2 separate regions of the Homo sapiens genome follow, and region 2 is linked to region 1. Evidence: fine-mapped expression QTL. A gene starts in region 1. The other region holds a variant in brackets. All regions are shown on one strand. Distances are between the middles of the regions. Region 1 holds the start of SPX (spexin hormone). Region 2 overlaps GYS2 (glycogen synthase 2).

Region 1 (5,539 bases):
TCAAGTTTACAAACAGGGTATGGAAGAGAATGTTAAACTATATGCCAAAGAGAATTTTAGATAATAATTTAACCTTTGCGGCCAAATATAAGGTAATTATTTGACTGAAGGAGTATCTGCTAAGAACTCAAAGTTATTTCAAATCTAAGTTGAAAAAAGACAAATTGTTCTGATTCAGCACAAAACATGATTTCTAATTTGGGGCAACTGAAGTTGAGAAACAAATCTTAACCTCATAAAATAAATAAGCTCAATTACACAGCATGTTTGAAGAGCCTAAACAAAAATTTAAGCACCTACTATGTGTTCAACAGTGTTTGGTATTTTTCCAAGTAAGTATACTTTTTAATTTTAGCATTTCAATCTTTACAATTTCATCAAATTGTATTGTTATTTGTTAATACAATACGATGGAAAGGTTTATCATGAAAAAGAACAGTCCCCGGTCCCATCCTTAACTGCCCGCATGTTACTCTTTTGATTTTGAACCTTTGATAGTTCTTTCTAGTCAAACAAAAGCATACATTTGAAGTTCCTAGGTAAGTTCTTATTTTAATAATAACAGCGTTTAAGAGGAGGCTGAGTAAAGTTCCTGCACAAACGCGCAGATACATTTCTAGAAGCATTTGCATAGTTCTTCCTATCTCGCCTTACCCCTCTGAGCTGCACCTCAGGTCCTAACTCCCTGGGGACCTCTGCACACCCTGGCAGCCAGAGGGCTGGCTGAACAGCCGCAAGCCAATAAGGCTTGGGGAGCCGCAGCGCCAGCCTGGGCCGCCCTTGCCACCATTGGCGCGGGGCTGGACGCGCGAGCTCCCAGCTCCGGCGCTCGGCATCCAGCTGCTGCTGCTGCCAACCCGGGCTGCCCTCGGGCGGACTGTATCTGAGGGCGCCTCAGAGCCGCGTCTTTCCGGTGAGGAGACGCTTTCTTTCGGCACCAGCGCGGAGCAAGCCCTGCCCGCCCCATCCTATTCCAAAAGCGCAGGACTAGCGCCCTTGCACCCTTGGTCACTCACCCGGCAGTGGCCGGTCGGAGAGGTCCTTTCTCCGGCTCTGGTCGGAGATGAAGCGGCGACCCTCTGCAAAAACGAGACCTGGGGCTCAGCGACAGCCTGGCCCGGGACAACCCGGGCTTAAACCTCAGCTCCTCCCGGCACAGCGCAGTCCCCGGGCGTGGGGAGGGGGCAGGTTGCTCCAGGATAGGGTCGCGCGGGGCTGCCGAGTTTCCAGCGCTCCCAGCGCAACCCCGGGCTGAGCCAGGGGCCCTGGAGCTCTGGAGGAAAGCCCCGCGCCTGACCGGACGCCGCAAGGGCGCTTTGGAGCGGAGGTCGGGTTACTGAGATATTTCCCAGGCAACCCGAGTCCCCATTTGGACCAAGAGAAGCAACCCTCCAGTTTTGGATGGAGAATTTCTAATAAGGATGGAGGATTTCCAATAATCAGGGACTCTTCCCCTCTCCCACCCCTCCCTCACCTACCGGTCTCTTTGATGGCCTCGATGATTTAAGGGAATAAACTCGACATTATTCTCTCTCCATAACTCTCCATCTATCTGTTCCTGACTCCTAGGGGTCTTCCATTATTGTAGGAAGAGCGAAATATTTGGAACTTACGTGCCCCTTTCAGGTAGAGCATAGCTTGAGGAGTCCAGTTCCTTCTCTCCAACAGTCTCTATAGCCCGGGGGAAGGGAAGAGCAGTTAATAAAACATTGCAGCTCAGTCCTCTATTACAGCAAAATAAAGGAAAAAGAAGAGAATAAAACAAGAAGGAAGAAAGAAAGAGCAGAGTGGACACACAGTGCGCATTGTTTTAAAATTTTTTATTTTGCATTTGATTACCTGCGGAGCGCAGCTGGAGTTTCCCAGGAAAACAAACACCAGGAAAAGAGCCAAGGTTGTTGCTGCCAGACTTCTGAGTCCCTATATGAAGCGATCAACCAGAAAGGGTCATTTCTGTGCCAATAGGATCTTCTGCTTCCTTCCTTGACGCCTGGACAATTATAAACCCCCTTACTTCTCGCAATATTCTGTTTTAATACTCAGTTTTCTGGAGGTGTTTCCCTTCTACCTTCTAGTTAATTCACAAAGAGTCCACTTGAAAAAACGTATTTAGAAACATATTATTTGTATTACTTCACCCAAATGAAGAATAAGTAAATACGTGAATTTTTTTCTTAGTAAAATCAAATGATTCTGTTATTCTAAAGGCGTATCGTTCAAATATCCTTTAAACTCTAAAATCCTTATTAAACATGAAATAGGTAAAATGCTATAAAACGTTTTAAAAAATAGCTAAGAAGTCTCAAGTTAATAAAGCCTTTACTTACCTTCATGTTCTGCGTCTTTTCAGAACCCTGAAATAACTATAACTTTATCTGTGAGTTTTCGACTCTTGCTCTGAAATTGGAGCTTTTAAAATCTTGGTGTTAAGGGCACCTCCCCATCTGGAGTAGAGTTTGGGAGTCCACAGGGACATCTTGTCAGTCTTCAAGCAAGATTGAGAATCTGATGACTCCTCCAGGGAGCTTCATTGCAGGAAGTAGAGGAATGATTGATGGGCAGAAATTATTTGTTTAAATACTGATTGCATCACCCAGGAGGCCTTCAGAATGTGTCAGCATCATTGGCCTTGCTTTTCCTACTAGCTGCCCAAAGTAACATGTTATTATTATTATTAATGAAAACAATCAATAGTCCAAGGCAGAATCAAAAGTAAAAGAATAAATCAGAAAACTTTTCTTGGGTAACTAGCCATCAGTCTATCACTGATGGCTAAAGATGTATGAAAAGGTTTGGGAATCTCAATGGAATTTGACATCAGTCATTCACTTAATTATCAATTCATTCTGTTGTTTAGCAAATATTTATTGAGTGCCTATGAGACACACAATCCTTGTATTTCAAGGGACACAGCCATGCACTGAAAAGACATGGTCTCTGCTTTGATCTAAGTTACCTACTAGTTAAGGTACACAGTAAACTGATGAATAGATAAATAAGACACAGTAGTTACCCCTTAATCGTAGGTGTGTGTGGGGTGGAGGAGCATGTTTCAAGACCCACAGTGGATGCCTGAAACCACTGATACGTATATGCCTTATTATACTATTTTTTTTTATCTGTTCACCAAGATGGTTACTAACTGATTAATGGGAGAGTGGTGTTTACATATGGACATGCTGGACAAAAAGATGGTTCATGTCTTGGGTGGGCTGGAGCTGGACAGTGAGAGATTTCAACACCCTACTCAGATTTAAAGCTCACAATTTAAACTTATTAATTCTGGAATTTCCCATTTAATATTTTCAGACTGTAGTTGACCATGGGTAACTGAAACCATGGAAAGTGAAACCGTGGATAAGCAGGGACTACTGTAACTACAGAATGTTTTAAATTGTTAAGTAAAAGTAAGCAAGGTGATGTGATAGGATAAGTGGTGGGCTACTTTAGGGAAGGTTAAAAACAGAGGGTAGTCTTGAAGGATAAGGTGAAGTAATGGGAGAAGCTGGGCAGGAATTAGTATTCCAGGCATTCTCAATAGAAGAAAGAAAAGCAAAATCTGTGGACAGCAAAGAGCATGACTTGCTTGGGGACTAGGAAAGAGGCCAATGGAGGCAGCGTTGTGTGGGTGAACGGGGGAGGTGCTTTGAAATGAGATTGGAGAAGAAGAAATGGGCCAGTTGATGTGGAAATACGATTATAAGCAATAGATGATGATGGCTTACACTGGGATGGTACACACAGGGAAAGAAGAGCTGTAAATGAATTTGGAATACATGTTGTGGAGGTAGAAAATATAGAACTTGTATATAAAAGGGATATGAAAGTGTGAGAAAAATAAATCAAGGATGATTCTTAGGTTTATGGATAAAACTGTGGGTAAATTATGAAGTAATTTACTGAAATTAGAGAAACTTCTTAAGAAGCAAGTTATGAGAGGGAAATTAACACTTGCCATATAGGCATATTAAAATTAAAATGTATATTAAAAATATCCAAGTACAAGTACAAAATAGAAGGTTAGAAATGCAAAACTTGATAGAGGTCAGCCAAGAGGTCACCAGCCTACAGATTTTCTTTTTGGTGGGGGGCAGAAATGATTAGCTTTAAGAATTTTAAGAATTCTAAGAATTTTACAACCAGTAAAGGGATGAGATTAAACACAACACTTAGGGAGTGAATAGGGCTAAAGAAGAGTGGCAGGGACAGAGCTATGAAAACAAACGCATAGAGAATGAGCAGAGGAAGAGCCAGAAAAGGAGGTTGAGGTAGAGTCAGAAAGAAAGGAGAAATTCCAGGGGACCCTGATATCATGGAAGCCAAGTGAAGATCCAGTAGTATTGGGAGGTCAAGCAACATTAGCTCCAAGAAACATCCACTGGATTTGGAATATGATGGTTTTGAGGATAGAAGCAAGATTGGAGTTGGTTGAATAGTGAATATGATATGATAAATTAAAGCCAAGAATAAACAATCTCTTTTACAGATGTCACAAAAGAAGGGAAAGGAAAAAATGAGAATTTTTTTTACTGTTATTATTATTGTTATTGTTATTTTAAAGACAGGGTCTCACTATGTTGTTCAGGCTGGGCTGAAACTCCTGTCCTCAACTGGTCCTCCCATGTCAGCCTCCCAAACCTCTGGGATTATAGGCATGCTTGGCCTGTGAAATCTTTTTTTTTTTTTTAAAAGATAAGATAGAAGATTTGTTATACTTTTTGGGAAACCTTTCATTTCTAGGAAATTCCTAAAATTCCCTGAATTATGAATTATGAAATTATGAATCTTTTTGGGAGGCAGAGTGTTTCTTCTATTGTACAAACTGAAAATGCCAGATAGTCAGTTTTCTAGCCTCCCTATCAGGGAGAATGTGGGCATATGACACGGGCTTCACCAATCAGATGAGCATGCTTAGATGGGGAATCTCATGCCAGGATGGAAGAAGTGCTCGGGTGAAGCAGGGGTTGTAGTAAGATTGAGTTTCTGGAGTAGTCTTAGCTACGGTGCTAGTGGCAAGTTCCAGCATCCAGTGCTGTAGCAGTGGTGATGCCAGCTGCAGTGTCCTTTTAATAAAATCTTTGTTTTGCCCAAATCAGCCATGTTTATTGGTTTCTGTTGATGTGACAACTAAGAAACAATTTGTAAGACATGTATATTGATGGGGATGATCAGTAGGGAAGGAGAAATTCATGATGTAGAAGAAAGGGAATATAACAGCAAAAGGAAATTCTTAGAAGGCAAGAGGGATAGGATTCCAAGTATATCAATATTCAGTTAAAAGATCTATATACATAGGCAGATATTGAACAAGGACCTGAGTATCCACCACATACTAAGTTACCATGAAAGAAAGAGATGGTCCCTCTCTTAGTCCATTCAAGCTGCTATAGCAAAATACAACAAACTGGGTAGCTTACTCAATGGAAATTCCTTACTCAACTCTGAAAGCTGGGAAGTCCAAGATCAAAGTCCAGTCAGCATGGTTGGGTTCTGGTGAGGGCCCTTTTCTGGGTTGCAGACTGTTGTCTTCTCTGCTGTG
Region 2 (5,000 bases), 35 kb before region 1:
TAAATTTTAAATTTTATGGTAGTCAGAAAGTAGAATGTCAATAAACATCTAACTTTATAGTTTTAAAGATACTTTTTTCTACAATGGTACCCTCTTTGAAAAGAGAATTTTCATAATAATTTTGTTTTGCCTTTCTAGATGTAGTTACTCCAAACGGCTTGAATGTTAAGAAATTTTCAGCAGTGCATGAGTTTCAAAATCTACATGCCATGTACAAGGCCAGAATCCAAGATTTTGTTCGAGGTCATTTCTATGGGTATGATTTTCTTTATTAAAAAGAAAAAGAAGTATCAGATATGAGTGATCTTTGGTAGAGAGAAAACAGAATTGTAATAATAAATGTTTATCTTTCCCAGCCCCCTTTGTACATTAACAGAATTCATGTGTACATTTTGTTACTGTTGCTGTATTTCATTTGAAACTGTTTGGTTTTGTTTTGTTTTAGTCATCTCGACTTTGATCTTGAAAAGACTTTGTTCCTTTTCATTGCTGGGAGGTATGAGTTTTCAAACAAAGGAGCTGACATCTTCCTAGAATCCTTATCCAGGCTAAATTTCCTGCTGAGGGTAAGAAAGCTCTAGGACATGGTATAACACTCTTGTAGGGAGAACTTTCTTCTGTGGGAAGTGAAGAATTTTTTGGCTTCTTAAATAGTTTTCAAGAGAATAAACGATAATCGTATTCTAAAAATGGCTTCAGCCTTTCAATTTACATATTGGAGTTACCACACTGTTGACTTGTGTGTTTGTCTATAATGTCATCTTTTTTTTTTTTTTTTTTTTTTTGGAGAATCTTAAGCTTATCCCATTATATGTCTCATTAAGCTTATCCCATTCTCCCCTTCTATGTTTTAATAAGTCATTATAACATCCCTTTTCCCTCACATGAGTTTGTAATCAATTGAAAAGTAAATATAGAGAAATCCAGTAAATGCAGAGCAAAATATCAATTTTCAGAAAATCAGTGAAGACTATAATGGAAGATGTGGCTTATGCACATGACAATACGCATCCTAATACTGAACCTTGTTATGACTCTTAGCCATTTAATCATAGGAAGCTCTGACCATCACTCTCCTCTCCCGACTGAAGCAGGCCTTCAGAGTAGCACGTGCCACATAGCTGGCAGCCAAACCCGACAGCACGAACTCTCTATAGAACAGGGCAGACACATACACACTCGGTTCACTCACCTCCCCAGCCACACCACCTCCCTGCGACTAAGAGTTTTAAACTCTTGAACTAGTGGATGTCACACCACATGAAAGCATGAAGGAGGAAAAAGAAGGTTCTTACTCCCAACCATGTGAAATCATTTTTTTTACTCAGGAAGGTGGGATACAAAGTGGGTTCTCAACTAACCGAGCAACACAATATGCATAAATAAAAGCAACTATAAAAAAAGATACCATGTCATAGCTATTGATGGCAGCTATTGGTTTATATTCCAATCCCATCACATAAAAATGTAGAATAAGTAATAGGAAAATATTCACAGGAGAAGAGTGTAGAATTTCAATCTTAATGAGATAATGAGAAAATCTAAACTTTCCTGAGTTCTGTACTACCCTCCAGTTAAATTTTTATTTCTTGGACATAAATTTTTTGCTTTAGAGCAGACATTATGCCAAATATGCTAAAAAAATTTACTAAAGCCACGTTAATAAACAAGCGATTTATTAATAAAATCCAACTATGCAAAACAGAACTGAAGACTAAAAAGATTATTCTTAAATAACCTTACTTAATATTTCCTAGTATATATTCATTCAACAAGCTTTATAATGGACTCACAACTATATCACATATACAATCTTTAGGGACATTATTAATAAATGCATTTATATAGTTATTAAATATTCACTTTATTTATAGATATGAAGAAAAGACTGATTACTATTATACTAGACATAAAAGATAACTGCAATACTTGGAGAAGTTAAAAGAAGGAATTCTCTTTCCACATAGTACATTTATTTTTTGATAGCACCTTGGCTGTTCCTAGGGTGAGTTTCCTATTGTATGCCTTCAGTAGCTTTCCCTAATAAAATGTCAGGCCCTAGAGGGCCGAGGCTGCATACTAGACGGTAAAGTGCCCCACACTCTGGAGCTAGTCAGTCATTTCCAGAACACATAAACCTTCATAGAGGTTCATGATTTTAAGTGAGTTTATGCTTTCATTCTTACAGCTTCTTAACAAGTCATTTCCTTTTGAGAGATGCTAAGCCAGCAGTTTAAATGTCAGCTTTGGCACTAACCTGTTATAGGACTCAGAGAAAATATTTAACCTCTCATTCCTTTCTTTTGACATTAATAAAATGAGGAGAGAAATGCCTATTGTACATGATTATTAGTAGTATATTTAAAGCACCCAGCACAGTGTCTGCTATCCCAAAAGTGCTCGTCATGTGCTTGTTTCTTTGCTTTAGGGCTAAAAACCAAAATACAACATCATGAGAATCAAGACATTTAGCGGAAAAGTAAAAATAATCTATCTGTCATCAATCAACATGAATAAGCAAAAAAATTGAAATATTATTTTAGCTTTTACCAAAGCTTAAATCTTCATTAAACTTCCAATCTGAAATTTTAAAGAACTAATTTTGGTCTTGTAATATTAGCTCTCATTCATGCTATTTTTTTAACCACAGAAAAGCACAGTGTCATCAATAGCAATTGTTATCTATTCTAGATGGTCAAAGGCACGAAAATATTTTGTTTGAATTTTCAAATTGTTAACTGACAAATACTGATTGAAAGTCAATTTGTTTATTGGCAAGTACAGACTGAAAATTTAAAATTTATTTTGATTTTAATTAAAATTTCTGAAAAAGTCTCAGGAAGGTGAATATAATCTCTCTGTGAAACATAAATAACTATACCTTTTATCTACTGATATTTTAAAACTCTACTTTTCAATGTTTAAGTTCCATCTATCATACTTTTTAAAAATCTTTGATAGTTGACTCTGTGTTTTCTAATTCCTCATCAGATGCATAAAAGTGACATCACAGTGATGGTGTTTTTCATTATGCCTGCCAAGACAAATAATTTCAACGTGGAAACCCTGAAAGGACAAGCAGTGCGAAAACAGCTGTGGTAATCTCACA[A/T]CCTGTGAATGTTCTCTAGCAATAAATGTGAAAAGATTTCTTTTAAGTGAATGACATCTCATGTATCGCCTTGAACTTTGTTTTTTCCTTAAGATTATTACAGACAAATAATACTTGACTCTCTTTTCATCGTGCTACTATTTTAGGTTATCGTAATGGTTATAACATTATAGGTGTTATACAAATTTTGGAATGAGCTACCATTGAAGGAACAAGGCCCTGTAGAAATCTTTAAAGATGAGTCAAACATTTTTTAACTTTCTATTGTGAAATTCTAAGAACATGTCAAGTAAAAAGCTTAGTAATATGACTCCCTGTATACTCATAGTTCAGATTCAACAATGATCAACGAATTCCCGTCTTGTTACACCTATACCTTCATCTACTCCCCCTCTCTGCTCTCTATCCTGTTCCAATCATCATGAAGCAAAAAAATTTTAAGCTCTTTGTGCTGGCCATGGTGTTCTGTTGCCTCAGCTCTGGAGATGTCAACTTAAGCTGAATTGGCAAGTAGTAAAATAATAGAAGAGACTATAAAAAAGATACCTGTAATTTCAAAGAATGTAATTTCAAAGAATGTCAACAAAACAATAGCATTATCGTGACAAATAAAGATTAAACATTGTCATACTGTTTAAATGATAAATCTTTCTGTTTCAAACAGGGATGTTGCACATTCTGTGAAGGAAAAGTTTGGAAAAAAACTCTATGATGCATTATTAAGGTAGGTGCTTGAAATGCTTTCTACTTCAATCACTTAAGGTTTCACTATTCAAATTTAACAATTTAGACATCATAACTTATTAATTTTGTTCCAAATATCAAGGAATTAATAACCTTTGAAAATGTGTTATGTCATGTGAACAGTATTTTACCCTTCATTTGACAAAACTTGTAAATAGCTGTACAAATAAGAATACATTTATATGCAGGCAAGTTCTAATTCAATGATGAACTCATTAAGGGTTGATATGTCAGTCTGAAGCTGAGAGAGACTTCATGAGATTTTAATTCAAAATATATATTGACAATGTGTATTAAATATGTACTTAAATATTAAGTCTATGTGAACACATTTACTTAATAGAATAATCAACATTATTTATTAAAATACATGAAATATATAATATATAATCTGATGCTTAGGAATCACTGAATTAGTGCCAGCTGTTTTTATTTTTGTTATTAACATTTTTTCCCTGCAGAGGAGAAATTCCTGACCTGAACGATATTTTAGATCGAGATGATCTAACAATTATGAAAAGAGCCATCTTTTCAACTCAGGTAATAAGGAAAAAAGCACCCACTATGTCCCATAGTTATTAAATTCTATCTAATCAGTATTTTAATTTATTGGAATGTGCTAATTTGGAACATTTTCAGACCTGAGGCTAGAAAAGACATTCTTACATAGTCACTTAAATGATTACTTTGGACATTTTTTCATTAGTGGTTTTAAGAGCTCCTTTAAAACATCTCATGAAACTTGTCCTTCCACTTGCTTACAAAATTATTTTTGAATTAATATATTCAATATAAAAATTATGTATAGTTTAGTAACTACAAAAAAGTCCTAAATACTTCCAAAACATAGAATTTGAGTCACATTAGAGAAAAGAATATTTCTTAGTCGAGTGGAATTATTACAAAGGAGATAAAACAAATGTGTCAGGCTTGCATCAGAATGCTTGTTATAATAGGGAAGAATCAGATACTGGAGGACAGCCTTGCTAAAAGAAATCAGTAAAGTTCATCTTAAGTCAAGACTTCAGGACACCTTTATATTCCAAATAAGTCCCGGAAGCAATCAAGAAGTCCAGGTCTCTCATATAGTAGCTGCAGGCGGAAAACAAAAGCTTCATGTATTCATAGCATGCAAAGGAGATTCTTC

What was found. PIP is the estimated chance that this variant, and not a neighbour inherited with it, causes the effect.
Region 2: its variant is fine-mapped to the expression of SPX in pancreas (GTEx, PIP above 0.99).

The regions. Positions count from the first base shown.
Region 1 is chr12:21,523,267-21,528,805 of GRCh38, reverse strand. It overlaps SPX (spexin hormone), which reads right to left and starts at 2,510. Exons shown (of 6, transcript NM_030572.4): 1 at 2,328-2,510; 2 at 1,840-1,920; 3 at 1,614-1,671; 4 at 1,017-1,079. The coding sequence starts at 2,333.
Region 2 is chr12:21,558,484-21,563,483 of GRCh38, reverse strand. GYS2 (glycogen synthase 2) reads left to right here. Exons shown (of 16, transcript NM_021957.4): 6 at 139-256; 7 at 446-566; 8 at 2,992-3,098; 9 at 3,774-3,833; 10 at 4,315-4,393. Among named protein-coding and RNA genes, the nearest start is that of SPX, 35 kb to the right of the region's middle. RefSeq lists an enhancer at 4,361-5,000. The variant A/T (reference allele first, on the strand shown) is at 3,110.